2 separate regions of the Homo sapiens genome follow, and region 2 is linked to region 1. The links come from fine-mapping of genetic effects on gene expression. A gene starts in region 1. The other region holds a variant in brackets. All regions are shown on one strand. Distances are from middle to middle.

What was found. PIP is the estimated chance that this variant, and not a neighbour inherited with it, causes the effect.
Region 2: its variant is fine-mapped to the expression of KLHL23 in blood mononuclear cells (TOPMed, PIP above 0.99).

What each region holds. Positions count from the first base shown.
Region 1 is chr2:169,725,790-169,737,354 of GRCh38, reverse strand. KLHL23 (kelch like family member 23) reads right to left here and starts at 3,523. Exons shown (of 4, transcript NM_144711.6): 1 at 3,268-3,523; 2 at 1,128-2,342. The coding sequence starts at 2,340. The region is part of intron 3 of PHOSPHO2-KLHL23 (PHOSPHO2-KLHL23 readthrough); the gene reads right to left. It overlaps LOC124900531 (small nucleolar RNA SNORA51), which reads right to left and starts at 9,483; the gene lies at 9,352-9,483. RefSeq lists silencers at 2,833-3,012, 3,123-3,192, 3,213-3,652.
Region 2 is chr2:169,768,838-169,785,077 of GRCh38, reverse strand. No RefSeq gene overlaps it. Among named protein-coding and RNA genes, the nearest start is that of SSB, 22 kb to the left of the region's middle. The variant C/T (reference allele first, on the strand shown) is at 7,203.

The sequences.
Region 1 (11,565 bases):
GTCACAACTTCACATGAAATCAATTTCTGCTCTATAAGAGCTGACATGTCCTTCAATACCGACATTCAGGACAATCATGCGTAACATTTATAGCATGCTTACTCTGTGTCAGACACTGTTCTAGGCACTTCACAAGCATAGATTAATTTAATCCTCTCAATGATCCGAGACTAGGTAATATTGTCATCCCCATTATACAGATGACAAAACGGGGGCACAGGGTGATTAAACAATTTGCCAGAGCTCATCAGCAAGTAAGAGGAAAGCAGGGATCTGGATGCAGGCAGTTTAGCTTCAGAGGCAGCGTGCCTGATCCCAAGACTGTTCTGCCTCTCAGCTTCCTGCCTGTCATCCAAGGATCATACCAGGTCAGATTTCCAGACCAGGTCAAATTCCCACACTCTCACTAGCATTAAAAAAGAAACAGAAAAGCCTGGGAAGAAACATTTGGGACAAAATGATACAAATTTGGTAACGACCTACCAGTTGTTTTTGTACAACTCCTCAGCACCAATGAATAAATACAATGAAATAAGATTCCCGTTTAACTTTTTTTCCAGTGGGAGAGAAGGAGAGCAAGGCAAACAAATCGCCAAACACAGCAGAAAATAGTGTTTATCAGACAGATACCGAGACCCAGGGGTGTGCCGGGTTCTGTGGGCCACATGAGGGAGAGTATGGTGTCTGCCCCTCTCAGAGAGGACTGAATTGCAAAAGCAGACGTTGTCTCTAGTTCCTGGAAGAATGTACTTTGTTACATCCTGTAGGGACCAAACCTTCCAAGGTTTTAATGAAGGACCTCTTGAGAGCTGATCAGCGTATTTTGAGAGGAAAAAGTTGAATAGCAGAATTTTAAAGGGTTCAATTTTAAGAACATGAAAAAATGAAAAACTGTCCAGATTTGTCTCTTCATCTAGCCCTTGACTTGAATATAAATTCTCATAACTCTCAGACAAGTTGGGAACTATGCTATACTGTTTTTATCTGGAACATTCTGTGTAGCATTATTTGTATAATTAACTATAGTTCCTAGATAGCATCCCAAAGTGATAAATTCAAGAGAAGTGAGACTGCTGGCCTAGCTCCAGACATCTAAAAAATACAAAATAAACATAATCTCCACTTACCTTTAATCATGTTTGCAATAGGAATCCATTTCTCTTTTAAAGGATCATAGAACTCAGCCTCTTCTGCTGGAGCCCCTTTTCTGTAACCACCTAAAGCATAGACACAGCCACCCAAGGTGACTGCACAGTGGTAATACCTGGCATTGAGCATTGGCAAACCTTCTGTCCATTCATCACTTTCACTGTTATAGATCCACACTGTGTCAAGAGCTTCTATGTTATCCGTCCTGTAGCCCCCAGTTACATAAATGTTGGGTCCTAAACATGTAACACCATAGCTCTCCCTGGTATAATCTGGTATTTCTGCTCCCTGAATCCAAACATTTGTCAAAGGATCCCATATGTGAACCTCTGATAAAGGATGCCAGTAATAGCCTCCAATTATATACATTGTGGCTGTGGACCTCTGGGAAATCTCTTTATGCATGGGATTCAAGGCATTGTATATTAGGGAGCGGATCTTATTTTCGGTGAGCAGGCAGCTTCTTTGAAGGCCTAAGGCTGTTTTTAAGTACACTGGATCTATATCAATGTTGATATAGCTCAGTAGATTATAGAGGCATTCAATTCGATTTTCTACATCATGAGCAGTCCACTTAATAACTGGCTCTATGATAGCTTCTTCTTTCCAAACACTGAGATTCTTTCTGGACAAGATAAAGAGAAACTTTTCAAGGCTGATTTCCAGAAATTCTTCTTGTTGCCACACTTCCTTAAACTTTGAACATAGAATTCTTCGAGATTCCTTCTCTAGTTCTGGACACACATGAAATTCTGCAAAGGAGTGCATTCCAATACAATTATCAATATCCAAGTGCCTTACCAAAAACCGCTCACAAGCCTTCTTTACTGAAAGGAACTGTAGCAGATCCGCTGCCTCAAGCAGGCTTTGAACATTTCTTTTAGTTATTTCAATTTGGGAAGTGTATGCATAATTTACAAGGCCTTCCAGAATATCATGGTGGATGCCAGAGAGTTTTATTTTATTTTTAAATTTTTCTTTCATGTCAGCTGTGAACATTGCCTTAAAATAATTGCTGCAAGCAGCTAAAACGGCTCGGTGACAATGGAAAATTATGCCTGAAGGACACTGAAGAGTAATATCAGTAAATAATCCATCCAAGTAAAATGTTCTGAATGCATCCAGAAAATCCACTGGATGTGTTGAATCCTTGAAAAGATAAATATAATCTTCTTGTCCTTTTAGAGCCATGGCTGCAATAAATATGAAATAACAAATGTGTTTTCAATGTTGCACATTCTCTCAAATAATCAACGCTAAATAACTTGACTATCATCGGATATACTCCAAAACTGGACTAAGTTCAGCATCTAAATAATAAATGCAAAATGTGGATGGACTGTTTGATCATTTATATGGTGGTCAATTTAAATTCAGGGTAGCTCGGAGCTTGAAATGAGGCTCCTGGATTTTTCAGTAGTCCTTTTGAGAGTACTGATTTGCTATTCCATTCACCGCAATCTACCCTGGCCTGGCGTTCGGAGATGAGATCCCACACTAGGCAAGGCAAGTGTCCGAGGGTCACCCCACTCGAGGCCGGACCTCAGCTGTCTCGGCTCGGCCCCAATTCAACCTTTTCCCCAAGCTCGTCTCCCTTTCAAATCACATCGAAATGCCAAGAAAGGGATGATGGAAATATAAATGGACAAGAAGAGGTCTCGGAAAAGGGAAATCCCGAGCCCTTTCGCTTAAGGAAGGAGAGAAAGGAAGGCAGCTCGGCGCAGCCCTTGCAGCCCTCGCCCCCTCCCCCGCGCCCGCCGCAGGGGTTTCCGCGCGCCCCGCGCCTGGGCCCCGGCCCACGTTCCCGCCCGGAGACCGCCCCGCCCCGGGGCCAGGAGCGGGGCTGGACTCGAGGGCGCCGCGTGCCGCCCGCGGGCCCGGTGCCCGCGTCCCTCTGCCCGGCGCTCCGCGCAGGTGTGGGAAGGACGCCGCAGGCAGCCCCAGCGCAACGCGTTCGGCCCGGCCCGGCGCCCGCGCGGCCATTGTCTGCGCTCCTCTCCCGCGCGGCCTCGCTGCCCGCGCCCGGCCCCGCTGCCCGCGCCCGGCCCCGCTCCCCGCGCCCGGCCCCGCTCGCTCCCAGCAGGCCGGCCTCGGGCTGCGGGTCCACACCGCACCTACCTCCCGCCGGGGCTCGGGACGCGGCGCTGGCCCGCGGGCTAGTAGCGAGCGGGAGCGGGGACGCCTCCGGCCCCTCTGACCATCTTTGGAAGAGGCGCTCGGAAGCCGCCAGCTAGTGCCGCTCCACCCCACAAGCAGCTCCTATTTTGGTGTCCCGGCGGCTCCCCCGCCTCCACCCGAACAGCCCCCCGCACGGTCTGGGCGCGAGGCCACTCGCGGGAACTCCCCCGTCGCCGGGCCGTGCGGCGAGCGGGGCGGGGCGTGCAGGCGTGAGCACGGCTCGGCCCCTCCCCAGCGGCGCCCCCCACAGCAGGTGGGACTGCTTCCCCAGGAGACAGCGCGCGCCGCCGCCTTCCCCTTCCTTGGCTCGCTCTCTGTCCCGCGCGCTCTCTCACACCCGGTCGAGCGTCTTCTCTTAGATAAACTCTGAGTCCTGAATTATTAATAACACCATATATGAGTGTGTGTGTGTGTGTGTGTGTGTGCGCGCGCGCGCGTGTGCATGTGTGTACACTCCCCTCCCTCAGTAGGCTTCGCCAGCCCAGACTCAATCGTGAGGACAGAGAAGGGGGAAAGAGTGGAGAGAATGGGGCACAACTAAAGGTCAGGGATTGGAGGCGCCGTTGAAATGCCAGAAGTAGCCGGCCTTTCCCACAAACGCCATCCCACCCCCAGCAAAGCACTCAGGAGGGCGCCTTGGTGCTGGTGAGCACATCAGGGGTTAAGCTGAAGCTTTGAGAGAAACTTTGGGCAGCCGGGGCCAAGGCGAAGTCCAGGCGAAGTCCAGTCGTGCTAAGATTCAGGTTATTGTATTTAGAGCATAGCAGCTGGAAGGAGCAGCCTTTCTGGTGACGGCCACTCTAGTCACAGATGTCTATGTGGTACACAAAGTTCATTTTCTTGTTCCAACTAAAGCCAGTATCAAATATTTTTGTATATCATTCATTCATTCATTCGCAAGATTTTATTAAGTGCTTCTAGTGCCTGATAGGGATAGACACTAGTAGTGATAAGAGTGTTGACAGATGGTCCCTAGCTCACAGGGACCTTCACCACCACCAGAGGACCATGTGTTTCCCAGAGTATGGTCTCAGAAACGCAATATACATGAATGGCCAGATAGTATGTGACAACAGAACTCTGAACCACATAAGAAGCCCAGGAAGCCAGACCACAACCTTGGTAGCAGCTGAACCAGAACAGTCAGGAAGTAGTCAACGACTGGCAATTTCCCTATTTTTTTTCTTTTTTGAGACAGGGTCTTGCTATGTTGCCCAGCCTGGAATGTAGTCGCACGATCTTAGCTCACTGCAGCCTCGATCTCCTGGTCTCAAGAGATCCTCTGCCTCAACCTCCCAAGTACCTACGACTACAGATGTGCAATTTTTGAAAAATTTTAAATATTTTTTCATGACAGGGTCTCACTATGTTGCCCAGGCTGGTCTCAAACTCCTGGACTCAAGCGATCTTCCTGCCTGGGACTTCCAAAGTGCAACTTCCCTATTTTTACCCCTAGTTCCACCTCTGCACCAACCAGAGAAAGCCAAATATGTTCCGCAAACCCATCACATAAAATACCCCCGCTTCTAGTAGCCCACCTGCAGCTTTCCCATGCCAACAACTTCCAATCAGAGCATACCGGGGGCTTTTCTTCACTTCTATAAAGCTTTCCCACTCGTCTGCCCCACCTTTGAGCCTCTGACAAAGTGATGGTGAGTGGGACTCCCTTCTACAGCAAACTCTGAATAAATAGCATCTGTTGGTTCTCCTGTGGGTGGGTTTTAGTTTAATTCCACAAGTCAGATCATCTTAATTGAATTATGTAAGATGCTGGTTATGCAGCCCCCACAACTACCACACCCCACGCACAGACGTCTGCGGGGTGGAGACCTAGGGATCTGCATTCTAATCAAGGGCAGCAGGTGATTCTTATGGACAAATAAGAGAATGTGTTGGACCCAAAAGGAAGAAGGATGAAAGTTTAACATCCCAACATCTGGTAAACAGTATAGTTAGAAAAGGAAAGCATATGAGATTTAGTTTCGGGCTTAAGGCTCATCTCTGCCACTTATCCAACATATAGCCTCTCACAAATTACTAAACTTCTCTGATCCTTCGTCTTCAGATCTGTAAAACACAGACAACATGGATACTTTCTCAACCTAACCTAAGGTTATTGGAAAGACAAATTAATAATGAAGCACTTAGGACTTGATATATAAATGTTAGCTACTATAATGAAAGAATATTTACACTTAATTCTGCATCACAACCTTAATTTGGAAATTAGCATCTTCTTAACATTTCTTCAGAAATTATGAACTTCATAGTTAATAGTAATTATAGCTTGCCCTTCATAACTGATAGTGATGCTGTTGTCACTGTTGCCATTCAAGGACACAATTGTGACTGATTGAAGGAGACTTCTCTCCATTTTTGTCACTGAAGTGTAGAGATGGCTGTTTTTGCAGCTATAATTACTGTTTGCCAAGTTTGATGTATAAAAAAATATAGGCTCCATCTAACTTGGAGTAAGGGCTTCTGGAATCATAACTACATGTAATAATAAATGATTCATGAATAATAGAATTCACTATATTCTCATTTATGCAGTTATTTCAGATGGCTGCATGAACCAACTAAAACTCTTGCTTTCATTTCGTGATGTTCCCTGGTTGTGAATTACTACTTAAAAGTGTATATCAGTGTATATTACATATTAGACTATTATACTGCTTCACTTTGCTAAGAGAAGAGCAGGTCCTGAAGGGTATTGCCTGGCATAGTTCCTCTTTACCATGTGCTTATCAAAGAGACCATTGCAAATGCTGATAGATTTGATGCATTCAGAAACATATAATTAGCATTCATAAATCAAATAAATTAATGATACCGTTCAAGAAAACAGATGTGCCATCTGTGGTTCCAAGTCTTAAAGAAATAAAGTGCTGCCATGGAAATGAGACATAAATGATTTGGCAGATACTAAGCTTGGCATGGAGTTAGATGACTTATTGACATCACACTTCAGCTTTCAAAGGACTCCGAGTTCTAAAAATAATGATTTTATTTATAATTTTTACCTTATTAGTACATCTTTCCACTAAGTACAGCCATGCCATTAAATGTTTGATATGCTGTGATATCATTAACAATGTGTGTAGATGATGGGCATAGATAGAACATTTTGTATACTTCATTTACATACTGGATTAAACAAGTTGCTGCCAAGTTAAAAAAAAAAAAAAAAGGCCAGGCCCATTGGCTCACGCCTGTAATCCCAGCACTTTGGGAGACCGAGGCAGGCAGATCATGAGGTCAGGAGTTTAAGACCATCCTGACCAACATGGTGAAACCCCATCTCTACTAAAAATACAAAAATTAGCCAGGTGTGGTGGTATACGCCTATAATCCCAGCCACTCAGGAGGCTGAGGCAGGAGAATCTCTTGAACCTGGGAGGCGGAGGTTACAGTGAGCCAAGATTGCGCCATAGCACTCCAGCCTGGGCGACAGAGTGAGACTCCGTCTCAAAATAAAAAACAATAGTAGGTAAAATGTATAAGGCTACCACATACAGCTTTGCAAATTGTGCACTGCACAATTCCAGCTCATGCAACTTAAGTAGAGTACAGTGTAAACACTGCTCTCAGGAGTTGTATAGTACACAACCAACGCAGGTATCTGTGGCTGCCCTGCAGCCGATGTGTCTTGGTAAAACCTTTTTTGGTATGTTTCCTGTAAAATAAGAAAGTGAACATTCTAATAACTAGGTAAAAATGCTTTTGCAAGTCACAGGTTTCCAATTCCTGGTTTCCAGCAAAAGTGAAAGAGGATTTTTGGCAAATAATTTGGAGGGAATGACAAAATGAATGGCATTACTATAAAAAAGGTTTTTTGTTTGTTTTTTTTTTTTTGAGACGGAGTCTTACTCTGTCACCCAGGCTGGAGTGCAATGGTGTAATCTTGGCTCACTGCAACTGCTGCCTCCCAGGTTCAAGAGATTCTCCTCCCTCAGCCTCCTGATTAGCTGGACTATAGGTGCATGCTACCACGCCCAGTTCATTTTTGTATTTTTAGTAGAGATGGGGTTTTGCCATGTTGGCTAGGCTGGTCTTGAACTCCTGACCTCAGGTGATCCACCTGTCTCAGCCTCCCGAAGTGCTGGGATTACAGGCATGAGCCATCGCGCCCGGCCACTATGATAAAATTTATCTCATTCTTACCTATTTGTCTCTGTGAACATGTTTTCTCAGCGATTATGTCTATAGAAATGTTAAGCAGGAACATTATTGAACCTAAATACTGTCTCATTCCAGCAGTAAGCACTACTTGACTTCATACTCTAAATGAAAGTAGCCCTATTCATCAGATTGAAATAATTTTTAATAATTTTTTACTTTTGATTTAAACATATTTATGTTTAATTAATTATAATAATAATTATAATATTAATTAGACCAGGATTTGTAAAATAACCAAAGATATAAAACCATCAAGGACATACAAATTGTAATTTATACACATTTTTGTCACAGAGAAGGTTAAGAGATTAATAAAAGATATTCAGTATAAAACCATACAGAAAAGTCTTTCTTTTTTTTGGCCTGGCCAAAAATGCTTTCTTTGAATGGTTCCAATATGTATGAATTTTAGTTACCATGGTTTAGTTAAATAACACCTGTCCCCTGAGAACAAGGTTTCAAATTTCAGTTACTGAAGTAAATTAACTCTGAGTAACTGCATAAAATACAAATTTGCTGCTAGCTCCTCAGGTCCATGAATTACTACATTAACAAATGCGCATCCTGATCAGTGACCAATCATGTATCTTCTTTCAAAGTCTGTCAGTGATTGATCTCTGTGCATCTGTCAGTTCACATACAGACAGTAAGGCTTGCAGTTGCATTGTCTCCTTGTCTGCTAGTAAAAAACCCATGTGACATTTTACAAAAATGGGTGATTGAGAAAGGGTATTGACCAACAAGGATGAAAGTATGGCATGGAAATAAAAAGTGACAATACCGCAAATAAAATGTGAAATGGCTGGGCATGGTGGCTTACGCCTGTAATTCCAGCACTTTGGGAGGCCAAGGTAGGCGGATCACCTGAGGTCAGGAGTTCGAGACCAGCCTGGCCAACATGGTGAAACCCTGTGTCTACTAAAAATACAAAAACTAGCCAGGCGTAGTGGTGGGTGCCTGTAATCCCAGCTACTCAGAGACTGAGGCAGGAGAATCACTTGAACCTGGGAGGCGGAGGTTGCAGTGAGCCAAGATTGTGCCATTGCACTTCGGCCTGGGTGACAAGAGCAAAACTCCGTCTAAAAAAATCAACAAAAAAAAAGTGAAATGAACACAATGAGGTTATAGAGGAAATAGCTGACCATGGGAATGTTTACACTACCACCATTGGAGAGAATTCAGATATGCAGCCAGGGAACTTAGTGCAGGTGAACTCATGACATAAGTGAGTCACCTTATGTCTCAAAGGAAGTGATCCTGGCAAAAAACTTCACATTAAAGGAACTCTTGGAGATATTTCACCACATCGAAAATGCAAAGGATAACACATTGGAAGTTGATCCAAACGTAAAACTATGACAGTCCATCAAGGCGTAGAAAGATGAGTACGCCAAATCATAAGTTTTATGACAAGAAGGCAAGAAACTAAGCGAACTACTATTGTTAAGTGTTTACAAAGAAACATAACACTTTATCAATGTTTCTAATGTTTTAAATTGCAGTATACTAAGTAAATATCAGTCTTACCATGTTCTTTATTTCCCTATACATTTTAACGAATAGTAAGAGAGTTCATAATGTTGTGACAAAAAAATGTAAAGGTCATAGGACAATCATAATTTTTCCCATTGATTATTTAGATCACATTATACATTTTCAACTTGTACAGTTATTTTGAAGGTCCTGTATTATTGTGCAAAGTGAGGACTGCCTGTATTTTCAGTGGGACAACCTTCTCTAAGAGAAGTAGAATGGAAGTACGAACTCAAGAAGAAAGAAGACTGAGAACTAAATTTTAAAAATGAGAAAATAAAAACTTCCAATAGTTTTTTTTTCTGAACTCCATGTCTCCTGATTCACAATACAGACGCAGCACAGGGCCTGGGCTGAGGTATATGTGGGGTCGGTTTACTCTGCCTCCTGTTTCTATACAGTCAGCGTAAGAACACAGACCATGGTAAGTACTAGGAAGCCAAAAATTTCCCACTTTTAAAGAACAACTTGTTTATGTATTTTTAAATGAATGACAGTGGTTTTGAACGGCTATATTTAGTTTTTACTAAATAGATTTAAAAGTATTATTTAACAGTCATTATTTATAACATGTTAGAAATTACAACCTTGGCAAATATTTAAACTTGTGATGAAAAGTTTCCAATATCGATTTAAAAATATGGAAGTGAGTACATAGTTTTTCAAACTTATTAGATTTGAAAGACCACTGATCTGGTCCCAAAACAGGAATTAGCCTATTACTGTTTGAGGGAGTATTATTACTATTTAAAAGATAGCAGTTTATTTGAGAATATGTTTCTGTGCCACAGAGCTCAATCCCAGATAAAATTAATACAAGACAGAAGGATAATAAACTAGGGCTTTTTCCATTATAAGCGATGGAGAAAGAATACAAGTAAGAGCATTGGCTCAACTAACCCAAGAAAGACTGATATTATTCTATAAGTCAGAGATTAAAGCTCGCCAAAGACTTCCTGGCTCATTCAGTAAAAGCCAGAGTACTTATAACAGGCTCCTGGATCCCCACATCCAGCTCTGCTTTGCCTCTCACCAGGAGGCGGTGCCTCAGGGCTTTCTCCGGGCTTTGCTACTAGCTATTCCTTTCGCCTGGACTGCTCTTTTCCCAGCTACCACTACAGGACTGGCTCTCTCACCTCCATTAGGATTTTTTTTTTTAATTTTCTTTTTTTTTTTTTTGAGACAGAGTCTTGCTCTGTCACCCAGGCTGGAGTACAATGGTGTGATATCAGCTCACTGCAACCTCTGCCTCCCAGGTTCAAGTGATTCTCCTGCCTAGGCCTCCCGAGTAGCTGGGATTACAGGTACATGCCACCACACCCAGCTAATTGTTGTATTTTAGTAGAGATAGGGTTTTGCCATGTTGGTCAGGCTGGTCTCGAACATGTGACCTCCAGTGATCCTCCCACTTCGGCCTCCGAGAGTGCTGGGATTACAGGCATGAGCCACTGCACCCTGCCTTTTTAAAATTTTTGTGGGTTCATAGTACGTGTATATATTTATAGGGTACGTGAGATACTTTGATGCAGACATGCAATGTGTAATAATCACATCATGGTAAATGGGGTATCCATCACCTCAAGCATCTATCCTTTGTGTTACAAACAATCCAATTATACTCTTTTAGTTATTTGAAAATGTATAATTATTATTGGCTATAGTCACCCTGTTGTGCTAGCAAATACTAGGTCCTATTTATTCTTTTAAACTAGTTTTTGTACCAATTAAACATCCCCACAGTCCCCCACTACCCTTCCCAGCCCCTGGTAAACTTCCTTCTACTTTCTATCTCAATTGTTTTAATTTTTAGCTCCCACAAATAAGTGAGAACATGTGATGTTTGTCTTTCTGTGCCTGGCTTATTTCACTTAATATAATGACATTCCAGTTCTATCCATGTTGCTGCGAATGACAGGATCTCGTTCTTTTTTACAGCTGAATAGTACTTCATTGTGTATATGTACCATGTTTTCTTTATCCATTCATCTATAGATAGACACTTAGGTTACTTCCAAATCTTGGCTATTGTGAACAATGGTGCAACAAACATGAGAGTGCAGATGTCTCTTTAATGTACTGATTTCTTTCTTTTGGGTATATACCCAGCAGCAGTACCCAGCAGCAGGATTGCTGGATCACACGGTAGTTCTATTTTTAAGAGTTTTTAAAGAAAGGGTCTTTCTCTTTCACCCAAGCTGGAGAGCAATGGCATGATTACAGCTAACTTCAGCCTCGACTATAGCCTCGGGCGATTTTCCCTGATTCTCCCACCTCAGCCTCCCAGGTAGCTGAAACTAAAGGCATGCACCACCATACCTGGCTAATTTTTGTATTTTTAGTAGAGACAAGGTTTCGCCATGTTGGCCAGGCTGGTCTTGAACTCCTGGCCTCAAGTGATCCACCCACCTCAGCCTCCCAAATTGTTGGGATTATAGGTGAGAACCACCCCGCCCTGCCTAATTGTAGTTTTGATTTGCATTTCTCTGATGATCAATGATGTTGAGCACCTTTTCATATGCCTGT
Region 2 (16,240 bases), 45 kb before region 1:
CCCTCTGTGAGAAACACCCAAGAATTATCAATAAAAAAATAAATTTAAAAAAAAAAAAAAAAAAAAAAAGAAAATAATGAGATTGGCCGGGTGTGGTGGCTCACACCTGTAATCCCAGCACTTTGGGAGGCCGAGGCAGGCAGATCATGAGTTCAAGACCAGCCTGGCCAATATGGCGAAACCCCGTCTCTACTAAAAAAAAATACAAAAATTAGCTGGGAGAGGTGGTGCCCACCTGTAGTCTGAGCTACTCGGGAGGCTGAGGCAGAAGAATCACTTGAACCAGGGAGGTGGAGGTTGCAGTGACCTGAGGTCACACCATTGCACTCCAGCCTGGGTGACAGAGCAAGGCTCCATTTCAAAAAAAAAAAAAAAAAAAGAAAACAATGACATCAACAAATACAACCTAAAATCATAAAATCATAATACACCTTTTTTTTTTTTTTTTTTTTTTGAGACGGAGTCTCGCTCTGTCACTCAGGCTGGAGTGCAGTGGTGCAATCTCGGCTCACTGCAAGCTCCACCTCCCGGGTTCACGCCATTCTCCTGCCTCAGCCTCCCGAGTAGCTGGTACTACAGGTGCCCACAACCACGGCCGGCTAATTTTTGTATTTTTAGTAGACACGGGGTTTCACCATATTAGCCAGGATGGTCTCGATCTCCTGACCTCGTGATCTGCCCACCTTGGCCTCCCAAAGTGCTGGGATTATAGGCGTGAGCCACCGCGCCTGGCCCATGATACACCATTTTAATGACATTGATGACAAACTGTTTAATGAGTGCCCTGAAGTACACTTACACATCCTGAAATCTTACCACTCATATGTGAAAAAGACTTACAAAAGTGTCCTCAAATTTGTAATACTCTTAAATATATTTTTTCTTTTTTAAATTTTTTCTAGCCACTAGACCACCAGGGAACTCTTACATATTTGTAAGACATCACCAATAACAACTTATTAAGCTGACACTTTTCTAAACAACCAATAATTTAAAAAAAACTTTCTAGAGGAATTCTAATTATTCCAGAAAAAAGTAAATTATCCTTACACCCTCTCCATTGAAAATACTCTCTCTGTAAAAAATGTTACAAAATTGAAGAGTAACCAAAGTCTATGTGGCTAAAGAATGTAGGGAAAAATATGGGAAGGTTTCTGGCAGTTAATTACGTTCAAGTAGTTTTTTGTCCTGGATTTTGTGATGCTTGTGCTATTTGCCTTTGTTGTGATTTACCTATTTATTCTAAATATATATTCATTTTCCTATTTTTTTTTTTTTTTTTTGAGACAGTCTCGTTCTGTTACCCAGGCTGGAGTGCAATGGCGCGATCTCACTGCAACCTCTGTCTCCCGGGTTCAGGCGATTCTCTTGCCTCAGCCTCCTCAATACTGGGACTACAGGCATGCCACACCATGCCCAGCTAATTTTTGTATTTTTAGTAGAGACGGGGTTTCACCATGTTGGACAGGCTGGTCTTGAATTCCTGACCTCAGGTGATCAGCCCACCTCAGCCTCTGAAAGTACTGGGATTACAGGCGTGAGCCACCACGCCTGGCCTCCTGCCTAATTTTGTATCCATAATTTGGTATTATTTTTCCCAAAGAGTCCCTCTTTCCCCAAATTGCATTTAACACCATGACCCACAAATTCTGATGTGACCTCGTTCAGAATACACACTAAAGAAACAGGGCTGGGCAAACTTCAACAGTAACAGCAATGGCAATGAAATAAGAACATGAAGCACTCTCCCTAGGGTAGAAGACTGGCGTGCATGTTTGATATATATATGCAAGTCCAACACACACAAACATAAACACACATATGACAGGGTCTCATTCTGTCATCCAGGCTGGAGTGCAGTGGCACAATCATAGCTTGCTGTAGCCTTAACTTCCTGAGCTCAAGTGACCATCCCACCCTCAGCTTCCTGAGTAGCTGGGACCACAGGTTCAGACCACCTCACCTGGCTAATTTTTGTATTTTTTTGTAGAGACAGGGTCTTGCCATGTTGCCCAAGCTAGTCTCGAACACCTGGCCTCAACCAATCCTCCTGCCTCAGCCTCCCAAAGTGCTGGGATTACAGGTGTGAGCCACCATGTCAAACCAGGAATATTTAAAAGAGTCTACAAACCTCATTAAGGAAAGAAGGGGAAAAAAGCAGAACCAGCTGAGATGGGTAAATTGTAGTCTGGAGGAAATCTGGCCCACACAATTTTGGCAGCAAATTGGTGGAAAATTATTCCAGAAGCAAATCTATTCTAAAAATGTCACTGTGATGCAGAGGTCCCAGGAAAGCAGTGTGGAGACTGGAGCAGCACTGGAAGGCCTTTGGCACTTACTCTAAAGGCTAAGCTGCCACCATACTTTGAGGTAGCACCTCCTACTGGGAGGAAAGCCTTAATCCATACATTGGTAAGCATTACTGACTGCAATTAGTAGGAAAATCCCAGAGGAAATAATTCTACCCTCATCACTCAAAAACAGAAATGAAGCAATACGCTAACTTGAAAAAGCCATGGGAATTTTGAGAGAATCAGGGGTCCAAAAATAAACCATTCATAGACTTTGGAAAGAATTCTTTTTTCTTTTTTTTTTGGAAACGGAGTTTCGCTCTTGTTGCCCAGGCTAGAGTGCAATGGCGCAATCTTGGCTCACCACAACCTCCGTCTCCCCGGTTCAAGCAATTCTCCTGCCTCAGCCTCCCGAGTAGCTGGGATTACAGACACGTGCCACCACGCCCGGTGAATTTTTTTGTGTTTTTAGTAGAGATGGGGTTTCTCCATGTTGGTCAGGCTGGTCTCGAACTCCTGGCCTCAGGTGATCCACTCGCCTCAGCCTCCCAAAGTGTTGGGATTACAGGCGTGAGCCACTGTGCCTGGCCTGGAAAGAATTCTTAAGGGGAGAGCTCAGAGGGTTGCAAGCTTTTTGGTTTCGAGTTTGGATTTTTTTTTTCTTGCTTGTTTTCTTTTTATTATAGAAATTTTCAAGCATACTTCAAAAGTAAAAAGTGTAATATAAATAGTATAATAACCCTCTGAATAGCCATCATCCACCTTCCACATGCATCAGCATATGTGCAGTCTTATTTTATCTACATGCCAAACCACTTCCCAAAGCCCTCATAAGATTATTTTAGAGCAAATGACAGACATATTGATTTAATCTACAAAGTCTTATCTACGTATCTTTAAGAATAAGGACTCTTTTTAAAAATATATAACCATATTTACCATTATCATACCCAACAAATTAACAAAATTACTCAGTCATCAAATATCCAGTCAGTATTTAAATTTTTTATTGTCTTATAAATATTTTTTAAGTTGCATTACGCAAATCAGGATCCAAATGCTATTCACATGTTGCATTGTGATATACAATGGCTCTTAAATTTCTTTCAACCTATAGTTTCTTCTGCTTTTCTTGCCATTTATTTGTTGATGAAATCAAGTCATTTTCCCTATAGAATTTGTTACTTTCCAGATTTGATTAATTGTATCCTGAGGTGTTATTTAACACATTTCTCCATCTTGTGTATTTCACATAAACTGAAAATTAGGTCTAGAGGCTTGATAAGATTTAGGCTAGATATTTTTGGAAGAGTGCTTCATAGGCGATGCTGTGTTCTTATTGCATCACACCAGTAAGTACATAATGTCTGTTTGCCTCTCTTTTTGGAATATTAAAATTAATCGGTGGGTTCAAGTGTTGTCAGCCTGATCCATCATTATAAAGTTCCTCATCAGCCTCTCACCTAATGATTTCAGCAGCTATCAATAATCATTGCCTAGATCCATTATTTCATTCAAGTGTCAAAATAGTAATAGTCTGTCATTTCTTCTGCATTCACTAGCTGGAGTTCTTCGGTTAAAAAAAAAAAAATTGGGGTGGGGCGCGGTGGCTCACGCCTATAATCCCAGCACTTTTGGAGGCAGAGGTGGGCAGATCATGAGGTCAGGAGTTCGAGACCAGCCTGACCAACATGGTGAAACCCTGTCTCTAGTAAAAAGACAAAAATCAGCCTGGCGTGGTGGTGTTGGTGTGCACCTGTAATCTCAGCTACTCAGGAGGCTGAGGTAGGAGAATCGCTTGACCCGGGAGGCAGAGGTTGTGGTGAGCCAAGATTGCACCACTGCACTCCAGCCTGGGTGACAGTGAGACTCTGTCTCAAAAAAAAAAAAAAAAAAAAAAAAAAAAATTGACTGGGTGCGGTGGCTCACACCTATAATCCCAGCACTTTGGGAGGCCAAGACGGGTGGATCACTTGACTACAGGAGTTCGAGACCAGCCTGGGCAACATGGTGAAACCCCCATCTCTACAAAAAAATACAAAAAAAAAAAAAAATGCTGAGCATGGTGGCAAGCATCTGTAGTTCCAGCTACCCGGGAGGCTGAAGTGGGAGGATCAATTGAGCCCAGGCAGTGTGTGTGTGAACAGGCCATTGCACATTGCACTCCAGCCTTGGTGAGAAAGCAAGACCCTCTCTCATAAAAAAAAAAAAAAGTACCATATTCACAATTTGGTTTCCTTGATGTACATACAAGTAAAAGAAGATAAGTGCTTGATTTTCTCCCTTCGCCAATTTTTAGAATAATGAGTTGGTTTCTTAATATTGTTCAAGAGTAACCAATTAGTTTGGCTGCAAGTCCAACAGTGCTAAGCATGGCACTAAATAGCACCATCTAAGAAGGTAATAGAGCCCTGACCCTACTGAACTGATAAGTTCTCTTAGATACTGATGGGTCTCTCAGCCAGTGGAGTAGGGCAGCAGACAATCATACACTATCACAACAATTAATTCATTCTTCAGAAATCATCAAAATCAATAATCATTTATAGATGACAGATTCTAAGTGATAACTCTTCTTGAAAACCAATCATTTTTAGAACAGTCAACAAGGTAGAAAAATCAAAGGTTTTAGTAGTACATCTCCACTTGCAGTGGAGAAGTATATGGTGAAGTATGGTGACACAGTGGAAATAGGGCGCTAATTCGGGAATTTGGGGTAGCAGTAGCCAGAACCTCAGAATGAATCATTGGAATCAGTGTTTCTGGGGGAAGACATAAATTGGAAGAATGAAAAATTCAAGATTTTATGTTTATAAGGGAGGCTAATTAGTAGTTTGCTAAAATGTTCTTCATAAAGTACCCAGCTCAGAATCAAAAGAGACCCATAGCCCTCATTTACCTACATGTACTGGAGGCTACTGATACCTACAAAAAGAAGCTAATAATTGAGAAGGGTCAAAGTGGATCAGATCAGTTTGCACAAGACTCAGGCAAAATGAGGAAAAAGAAGTATCTACTGAATTTGGCAACATGTAAGTCACAGATGACCTGATAACAGTAGTTTCAGTGATGTGATGAGGGTGGAAGCCCGGAGTAGGTGGAACAGTGTGGGGTTAACAATTCTTTCAATAAGTTTTTCTATAAAGGGAAGCAAAGAAATGAGATGTTCCTGGAAGGGTATCTAAGGACAACTGAGGTTTATTTATTTTTAAAAATAAAGATGGGATCTTGCTGTGTTGGCCAGGCTGGTCTTGAACTCCTGAGCTCAAGTATCTTCCCTTCTCCCTCCTTGTTGATGGCCTCCCAAAGGGAACTGAGGATCTTTTTTTTTTTTTTTTTTTTTTTTGATACGAAGTCTCACTCTGTCGCCCAGGCTGGAGTGCAGTGGCACGATCTCAGCTCACTGCAGCCTCTGCCTCACAGGTTCAAGCAATTCTACTGCCTCAGCCTCCCGAGTAGCTGGCATTACAGGTGCCTGCCACCACACCTGGCTAATTTTTGTATTTTATTTCAGGCTAGGCTGGTCTTGAACTCCTGACCTCAAGTGATCTGCCTGCTTCGGCCTCCCAAAGTACTGGGATTGCAGGTGTGAGCCACCGCGCCCAGCTGGAACGGAGGATCTTTTCACCAATAGGGTTTTTTAAAGGATGATAGTTTAAGGCCAGGCATGGTGATGTGCACCTGTAATCCCAGCACTTTGGAAGGCCAAGGCGGGTGGATCACCTGAGGTCAGGAGTTCAAGACCAGCCTAACAAATATGGGGAAACCCTCTACTCTACTAAAAATACAAAAATACAAAAACTTAGCCAGATGTGGTGGCATGTGCTGTAGTCTCAACTACTCAGGAGGCTGACGCAGGAGAATCTCTTGAATCCTGGAGGCGGAGGTTTCAGTGAGCCAAGATTGCACCACTGTATTCCAACATGGGTGACAGAGCAAGACTCCATCTCAAAAAAAAAAAAAAAAAGATGGTAGTTTAAGAATTGCAAATTCCACATAATAAAGGGAGAAACTGGTGATCTATGAGAGCGGGGACAATTGCAAGAGTGATGTCCTTGAGAAAATAAGAGAAGATAGAATCCAGAGCATGACTGCTTCGATAGGGCGATGGCATTTGAATTACAACAAGTGGGAGAACAGGAAATATTGACACAAGTGTAGAAAGATTTGGTGGTTAGAAGAATAGAGTTCCTGTTTAGTTGCTTATGTTTTTTCAGTAAAGTATGTGAGAGTGGGGCCAATGAGGAAGGGTTTATGTTCTACAGTATTTATCTTAGAAAAAGAAAGGGAAAAAAAGGAAAGGAAAAAAAGAGGAAGGTTGAAATTTTTAGGAAAAAAAAGATATAAAATAGTTGACTCAGAGAGCAAAATATTAATCTTACTAGGAAAACCTTTTAGGATTATGGAGCAGATATAGAGTGTTTCAGCTTTGTGGTCAGAAATTTAAAGCACTGTGCCAGTGTTTGGCTGCTCTGGTGCAGGCCCAGAGAAGTTATACTCAGATGGGCAAGTGAATATAAAAGAAGTACAATTGCTTTTCATAATGACGACCAGGACATCAAAGGTGGATAAGGGAGAGAATGAACACAGAATAGACATAAGAGTTAAAAAAAAAAAAAAAAAAAAAAAAAAAAAAAAAAAAAAAAGCAGTGAGGTTGGTGGGTTGAGGACCCCAGGTGTCAGATGGGAGGCTATCTGGATAAAAATGAGGACGCCAGTCAGGATGAAGAGGAAGACAGTGAGCTAGGAGTCAAGTCTTCAGTGAATGAGGGGTGTGACTGGGTGATCATTAGAATGTAGACACAAAGAGGTGGGGCTTTTGAGGAAGGAGGATAGTTTGAAAGTGATGATGTGAGGCCTGGCACTGTGGCTCATGGCTGTAATCTCAGCACTTTGGGAGGCCGAGGCTGG[C/T]GGATCACGAGGTCAGGAGATCGAGACCATCCTGGCCAACACAGCGAAACCCCGTCTCTACTAACAATACAAAAATTAGCTGGGCCTGGTTGTGTGTGCCTGTAATCCCAGCTACTTGGGAAGCTGAGTCAGGAGAATCGCTTGAACCAGGGAGCCAGAGGTTGCAGTGAGCCAAGATCGCGCCACTGCACTATACCTGGCGACAGAGTGAGACTCCGTCTCAAAAAAAAAAAAAAAAAAAAAGAATTCCATACCAGAAATTTAAGGCACTGTTCCAGTGTTTAGCTGCTCTGCCGCAGGCTCAGAGAAGGTCTGGAGTTAAACTGGGGAATCTTTTGTTGTGTTTTAAAATCCTATTAAAAAATATAAGTGCCTGTAATCCCAGCACTTTGGGAGGCCGAAGTGGGTGGATCACCTGAGTTCAGGAGTTCGAGACCAGCCTGATCAATATGGTGAAACTCTGTCTCTGCTAAAACTACAAAAATTACTTGGGCATGGTGGCATGCGCCTGTAATCCCAGCTACTCAGGAGGATGAGACAGGAGAATTGCTTGAACCCGGCAGCTGAAGGTTACAGTGAGCTGAGATCGTGTACTGTACTCTAGCCTGGGTGACAGAGCGAGACTGCATCTCAAAAACAAACAAATAAACAAACAAATAAAATATATATATATATATGATTTGAAAAGGCCTATTTCTACACTATTACATCTATTGGATTGAACATCCTCTAGTTTACCATAGGTCTTAGACCCTCTAACTTTGTCTTGACTTTAGAGATAGTAGTGGTTTTTACACTTTTTATCTGCCTCAGTAGAAAGTCAGCTCTTTGAGGCCAATAGTATATTCCCATAGCTTCCCTTAAAATAATACTCGCTGTGCACAAATTGTCACCTTTTATTAAATGTGTGTGTTTACTGTAAAAACAGAGCTGGACAATAGAATGTAAGCTGAAAATCAGACCATAGAATCTGGCCTAGGTTTGGGGAATGGAGAGAATAAAGACTTGGATTTCATTCAAGTTGATTTTACTTTGGTTTAGTTTTGGATGAACTAAGAAGCAGAGCAAAGAATATAAACAAGATAGAGATGCAGAAGGATAAATGTTGCTTCCCATTGCCTCCCTTGTATGTCCCAGAATACACATAAAGTTTGCATTCTTGCCAGCTCTGCACAGCAAACTATCTACTAGGTCAAAGAGGCAGAGAATGACAGGCTCCCTGCCTTCTATATTCCCAGTTATATCAGCTCAGAAACAACTTATACTACCATATAAGGTGATTCATTCTTAGACTCAGTGAACCATGCTATCCAGGTTCCAGGCCTTGAAATTCATTTGATGTCCACAGTCAGGCAGGTTCCTATTTTCTGTGGCTGCACGGCAGGGCCTAGGAATTTTTCACCTCATCTTCTTGTGGTTTTTTTTGTGGGCAGGCCTTGGAAAAACAATGAGAAATCCATATATAAAATGAAACCCATGTTATCACCACATGGTGTAGAATAATTATGGTTGCTATCACACAGTTTAACATGAATTCCTAATTGCACAAATATGTATGGTGTGCTTACCATGTGCTTCGCCCTAAAGATCCAAAAGTAAATAAAACTTAGGCTCTGCCTTCTGCCTCAGTACACTTGTAGTCTAGTTAAATTCATCATGCTTCTCTGTCATGACCATTTTTTAAATAGGAGGTAGACAGCAAAGAAACAGGATACTCTGGTTGAAACTTTTTTAAAAAGTATATTATTAATTCCAGGTTGGTTAATAGCCTTTTGATCTCTTTTGGTTTTCTCCCATCTCTCCTTTCTGTTCTGTTTCCCTTAAAATAACACTCAGTGCACACACTGTTTTCATTAAATGGGTGTGTTTATTCTAAAAACAGAGCTAAGAGTTATCAACCGGCAGATTCTTCCTGCTCAGGCCTCCTTAGTGTCTAAACAGTGCATGACTCGCAGAAAATGCAAAGTGGTTTGTTCTGGTTCTTAGAGGCAGAGTGTTAGGAGGGCCAACTGATAGAAACAGAACTTAATCATTTTAGGATTTCAGGAGTATCACTGTAGAAGACAAGGGTGAATGCAGGAGTCAGCCTGTAGACTGTGTACAATCCTAAATTCCAGCCTCATCTGAAGAAAATGAACCTATTTTCATGAAAATGCACCTTTTATATTTCTTATAAATGGGTAGCTTAATAAGTGTATGTATTTATTAATATAACTGATCCTTGATTTTGGAGATATAAAATATTCTAAAAGAATTAATTTAGCCTAGGGAACATCCTCTTAGATAATAAGTCTATAGATGGCTTCACAGTACACATGCCTCAGGGCCTTTGTACCTACTGTTTCCAAGGTTATAGCTTGCTTCTTCAGGGCTCAGCACAAACATCATCTATTAGAGAGGTCGTAGCTGACCACCTTATATTAATAGTACCTCCCCCACAACGATTTTACTCCATCACCTTCATTCTGATTTTTTTTCATAAAACTTGTTACCAGCCAGACATGGTGGCTCACGCCTGTAATCCCAACAATTTGGGAGGCTGAGGTGGGCGGAATCACGAGGTCAAGAGATCGAGGCCATCCTGGCCAACATGGTGAAACCCCCTCTCTACTAAAAACACAAAAATTAGCTGTGCATGGTGGTGAGCGCCTGTAGTCCCAGCTATTTGGGAGGCTGAGTTAGGAGAATCACTTGAACCCGGGAGGTGGAGGTTGCAGTGAGCTGAGATAGCACCGCTGCACTCCAGCCTGGGGACAAAGCGAGACTCCATCTCAAAAAAAACAAAAAACAAAAAACAAAAAACAAACTTGTTACCACCTGATATCTTATTATGGGAACATACAAATTTTGTGGGGCCTGAAGTTTTTATAATGGGGGGGCATTTTTTAAAGAAACAAAATATAAAAATTGCAATTAAAAATTAAGTATGAGCTGGGCGCGGTGGCTCACGCCTGTAATCCCAGCACTTTGGGAGGCCGAGACGGGCAGATCACGAGGTCATGAGATCGAGACCATCCTGGCTAACACGGTGAATTAGCCAGGCATGGTAGCAGGCGCCTGTAGTCCCAGCTACTTGGGAGGCTGAGGCAGGAGAATGGCGTGAACCTGGGAGGCGGAGCTTGCAGTGGAGCCGAGATCACGCCACTGTACTCCAGCCTGGGCGAGAGCAAGCCTCCGTCTCAAAAACAAAATAAAAAAATAAAAATAAATAAAAATTAAGTATGAAAGTGAATATTAATGTGAAAATAAATCATAAATTGCTGGAGTCTTGGAGCTTCAGTTCTTCCTTCTAGGATTTATTTAGGCAATTTACTAGAAATGCTTATGTAAAAATGTGTAGTTGTTGCAACCTGGCTTCCACTTGCCACCTAGAACATTCTATGGCCCTCAGCAATTACCAGCCCTCCCTGGGGTATCACAGTAAATCTGACTCTGCATATTAAATATCAATTTGCTTGTTTGTTTATTGTCAGTCTGTATCAATGGAATGTCTTAAGCTTCTTGAGAGCAAAGATTTAACCTTCTATGTTGCTTTATGCCCAGTGCCCACAACAGGAGTAGGCACGGGGGGCATATCATACATGCTTCTTTAATAAATTGTATCTGTCCCCGAAAATCAACTGGGAAAAAATAATCCTTCCTCCTCTCCCATTTTAGCCACTCTGTATTGTCATAGCTCTGTGTTATTGTCTTTTAGTACTATCACTTAAAAAATTAGCTTACTGCTTACTTTTTTTTCTTTTTAAGATAGGGTCTCCTCTGTCACCCAGGCTGGAGTTGTAGTGGCACAATATTGGCTCACTGCAACCTCCACCTCCTGGGTTTAGGCGATCTCATGCCTCAGCCTCCCAAGTAGCTGGGACTACAGGTGTGTGCCACCATGTTTGGATAATTTTTTTGTATTTTTACTAGACATGGGGTTTCACCATGTTGGCCAGGCTGGTCTCGAACTCCTGGCCTCAGGTGATCTGCCTGCCTTGGCCTTCCAAAGTGCTGGGATCACAGGTGTGAGCTACTGCGCCTGGCCTGCTTGTTTACTTGTTATCTGTGTCCCCTACTAGAGTAGGCCATACTAAGAAAAGAGAGTGTCTTGCTCCCATTTTCCCAGAGTTTTTAAAGCAAGGCACAGAGGAGGCTCTCAATAAGTATTTTTTTGAGTAAATGAAAATAAGGCAAATAAAAAACTTTTCACGATGAAACTTGCCATGTACTGCAACTCTCCTTGTACCTCTGTTTTTATTCTATTTATCTGAAAGTTTCATTTAGATACTCAATTATATGCTAATTTAATGAAACATAATTAAGTTTTAAAAAAAGTAAAATTATAATAATCACTTCACTTTACACCTTAGCTAAATAAGTACAAATGCATTTTGATTTGACAGAAAGATTGAGTAATTAATTTGTAACCATCTACTAACAAGATTTGAAAGATACAGGTACTTAATAGTACTTTCAGACACAGGATTTCTGCTCTGAATTTGCACTCACCCATGATTTCTGTGACTTTAGGGAGTATCAAATAGAAAATGCTCCTACGTACCAAGTTTTCTTCCCTGGAGGCAAAATAAAATAAATAAACTGACCAATTTCTTATATATTATTTCTGAAATATGCTATGAAGGTATTAGCAGATATTTATATATTTTTCTTTTTCTTGCACAATTTATAGCATACTATACTCACAATTCTGTACCTTTTGTTTTGTGATTCTGTTTTTTTAATATATCTTGGAGCTTACTAATATTTTTGGCTGCATAGTAGTCCATTGTGCAACAGTGTCTTATTTAAATAATCCTCTCTATGGACATTCAGATTGCTCTCAGTCTTTTGGTATTATAAACAGTGCTACAATGAATAACCTTGTACACATGTAACTTCATACATATGTAAGTATGTCTGTAGGATAAACCCGTAGATGTGTGTTTGGATCTTATAGCAATAAATGACACTCCTCATCCTCACCCAAATTCTAAGCCAATTAGGAAATAAGACAAAAGAGGCAGACAGGTGATTAAAATGTCACTTCATTACTGGTGACAGCTGATGTTGAAGCATGTTGCTTACATTTGCAGATAAGAGAGCTTCCCAATTCTGGATCTCTTTCCATTTAATCATAGGCAATGTTCTTCAAACATAGGTCTCCCCATGCAGGTTTTAGGAAGATGATGGGCTGAATGCGGCCTTCCCAGTTTATTCTTTACAAATTTAACAATTAGAGGAGTCACCCCTCCTTTCTTAGGGAGAAGCAAGTGAGGAGGAGAAGAGAGGCCAGCAGCATTAAACCAGGAGAGCTACTTCAGCCTGGAAGTACACATCAAGAAACATTCCCGCCCTAACAAAATACTCTCATGTTCAAAACGGTCTTCAATTGGTAATTGTAATATATTTTTCTCAGTTGTTCACCAGAAATGTGTCAATTTACACTCCTTCCATGAATATGCACCCAGGCATATAAGAAAAGTTAGCATTAGATAAATGTTTTTCAATTATCCTTGGTCTATTCATGTCTCACTACCCCAGAGGTTTTTCTTGAATTTTCTTACATTATTTTGAAATATAACACAGCAGAATTTTATTTTATTTTTGAGACAGAGTCTCACTCTGTTGCCCAGGCTGTAAGTGGAGTAGTGCGATCTTGGCTCACTGCAACCCCCGCCTCATGGATTCAAGTGATTCTCCTGCCTCAGCCTCCCAAGTAGCTGGGACTACAGGCGTGCACCACCACGCCTGGCTAATTTTTGTATTTTTAGTGGAGATGGGGTTTTGTCATGTAGGACAGGCTGGTCTCGAACTCCTGACCTCAAGTGATCTGCTTGCCTTGGCCTCCCGAAGTGCTGGGATTACAGGTGTGAGCCACCGTGCCCGGCCCAGAATTTTAATTATAGTGGCTTCATAGCATTTTAATGTCTGGCAGAGACTGTCAATTGTCACAGTATCCATTGCTCCCATCTTCCTGTTTGAAACCAGACTCTCTGAGCTTTCACCCAGGCCTATGGCTGTCCATCTTTGTGTGAGTCATTGTAGCACCCATGCATATAATTGTAAGGACTTTGACTTTAGCTCTGAGTGAAATGTGGAGTCATCGCAGGGATGTGAACAGAGGAGTGACATGATCATAATGTCTTATAGACTAACCTGTAACTATCTGCTCATAAGGAAAGCCTGGTAAAGTGCAAGGTGCTTCTCTAATCAAAGAACTGACTGCAAAGTAGCCCCAAGACTGGAAGTAAAGCTGCTCTACAAGTTAGGGACACTAGGCCACTGGAGAACTGGGCGAGTGGCTCTCCTTTCCCTCATCTTAAATTCTTCTAAATGTTTGGGGTTGTTTTGTTGTTGTTGTTGTTTTTGAGACAGGGTATTGCTTTGTCACCCAGGCTGGAGTGCAGTGGTGTGATCTCGGCTCACTGTAGCCTCAACCTCCTAGGCTCAGTTGATCCTCCCACCTCAGCCTCCCAAGTAGCTGGAACTACAGGTACACGCCACCATGCCTGGCTAATTTTTTGTATTGTTTGTACAGACAGGGTTTTCCCCTGTTGTCCAGGCTGGTCTTGAAATCCTGGCCTCAAGCAATCCACGCATTTGGGCCTCCCAAAATGGTGACTAGCCATGAGCCACTGTGCCTGACCTAAATATTTGGTCTTTACAGACAAGAAAGGAAACAGAAACGGGAAGGAGACTGATGGTTTCCGATCCTGATTTTATGAGCCAGGATGCTGTGCAACTTCCACAGATGTTTTGTTATATTTTTGCAGTCGTTTTCTTGTCAAACTTTGAGCTTCCTCATTGAAAAAAAATTTCAAAGTTTCATTTCATCCATTGTAATGGCCAATAACTTCTTTAAAATTTATGGAATAAAAGCACAGAGCTTCACAGAAGGTGGATGTCACTATGGAAAGATGTCCAGTTAGAACTACTTTTAAATATATTACAGCTACGCAAGATGAAAAACTCAAATAGGGAATAGAAAGCTACAAAATACACTTGAAGACTACAGTTGTATCCAGCCAAGACAGTAATGATAATTTCTGCTTTCTTTCATTTCCTTTCTTTCTTTCTTTCTTTTTTTTAGAGAGAAGGTCTTGCTCTGTCACCCACGCTGGAGTGCAGTGGCACAATCATAGCTCACTGCAGCCTACACCTCCTGAGCTCACGTAATCCTCCCACCTCAGCCTCCTGAGTAGCTAGGACTACAGGTGTGCACCATCACACCTGGCTAATGTTTAATTTTTTTTTTTTTTTGAGGTGGAGTCTTGCTCTGTCACCCAGGCTGGAGTGCAGTGGTGCAATCTCAGCTCACTGCAACCTCCGCCTCCAGGGTTCAAGCGATTCTCCTGCCTCAGCCTCCCGAGTAGCTGGGATTACAGGCATGCACCACCACGCCCAGCTAATTTTTGTATTTTTAGTAGAGATGGGGTTTCCTCTGTTGGCCAGGCTGGTCTCAAACTCCTGACCTCAGGTGATCTGCCCGCCTTGGTCTCCCAAAGTGCTGAGATTACAGGTGTGAGCCACTGAGCCCAGTCTACTAAATTTTTTTTTTTTAAGGATGGGATCTCATTATATTGCCCAGCCTGGCGTCAAAATCCTGGCCTCAAGTAATCCTCCTGACTTGGCCTCTCAAAATGCTGAGATTACAGGCATGAGCCATCACACCCAGCCAGTAATGATCATTTCTATTGGTCACAACTTTGGTTTAAATTTTCTAGTAACTTTTTTTATAATCACAAAAAAAAGTATTATGACAAAAAACTTGGAACTCATAAAATTATTAGTTAATTGAACTATAAAAATAAGCCATGGCAGTGAGCAGAATGGGGAGAAGCTTGTAACTCTGATCACAAGAAAGGTGGTCATTTTTAAAAAATATAAATGGTTCCTATAAACCAAGAAGAAAATCTCAGCAATCCATAGGGAAAACTTCTGAATGGAATAGGCACACAAAAGATAAGATAGTTCACTCAGAAAGATGAGGATGCTAAGCAATACATTCAAAATTAAACCAAAGTAAGATACCAGTGGCACAAACCAAACACTTTGCTGACACTGTGGGATAGGCTAAGGCAAATTCATATATTGCTTATGAGGGTATAAATTAATAAAACTTCTTTGGATTTTAATTTCTCAATAGCTCTAAAACTTTAAAAGGAAACTATCCTTTGGCCTAGTGAATCCACTCTAAAAAATTATCTCACAGATATGGTTCCTGTGTATAGGTTAAATAAAAGACATTCATTCACTGAGCACTATTTATAAAAGCAAATGACTAAACAATCTATGAGTCCATCAATAAGATTCTGGTGAAATTATGTTTCATCTACACATTGGAAAAGTATAGAGCAGTTAAAAAATAAAATAAATTTATATGCACTGACATGTTCAAATCCTCTGCCACCGTAGATGAAAAATATAATCTGCATAACATGAATAGTACAATATTTATGAAAAAGGTATATTTGCTATATCTTTGATATGCATGTATTGCATAGAAAGGGCTTGTAAGTATGTAGACCCACTTTTTAACATTTCCTTTAAGAGGAATGGGATAAAGAGGTTTAGATCTTTTTCCCCACTTTTCATTCTATACTTCTTCACAAGGAGAATGTATGTACATGTTACATTTGTGGATAGAGAATAAAAATAATAACTAAGTTAAGTGTATCAAGTTCACAAAAGCGTTACCTGAAACTGCTACTGGGTGAACCCCAAGAAAGGTAATATCTGTCACTCAGGACATGTGGAATTTCTATGTTATTTGTGTATGAGAGAAACACCAAATTCTCCCAATAAATTGCGAGTCCCGTAGGATAAGCACACATCTGATGGCCCTGAAGAAGCGTTCCTTGTGTTTGCTGAACCCCTGAGAGCCCAGGCACGCCTCAAACACATTTAAGATTTGTTGGGCATCCGGGCCAGCCACGTGCTCCCAACGCCGCCTCCGGGTCGGGGCGCGCCGCCAGAGCTCAGACTCCCCTAGAATGCCTCCAGGAAACCGTCGGGTGGGGCGGAGATCTGCTCCCCGCAGCGGCTTTTTCACCTGC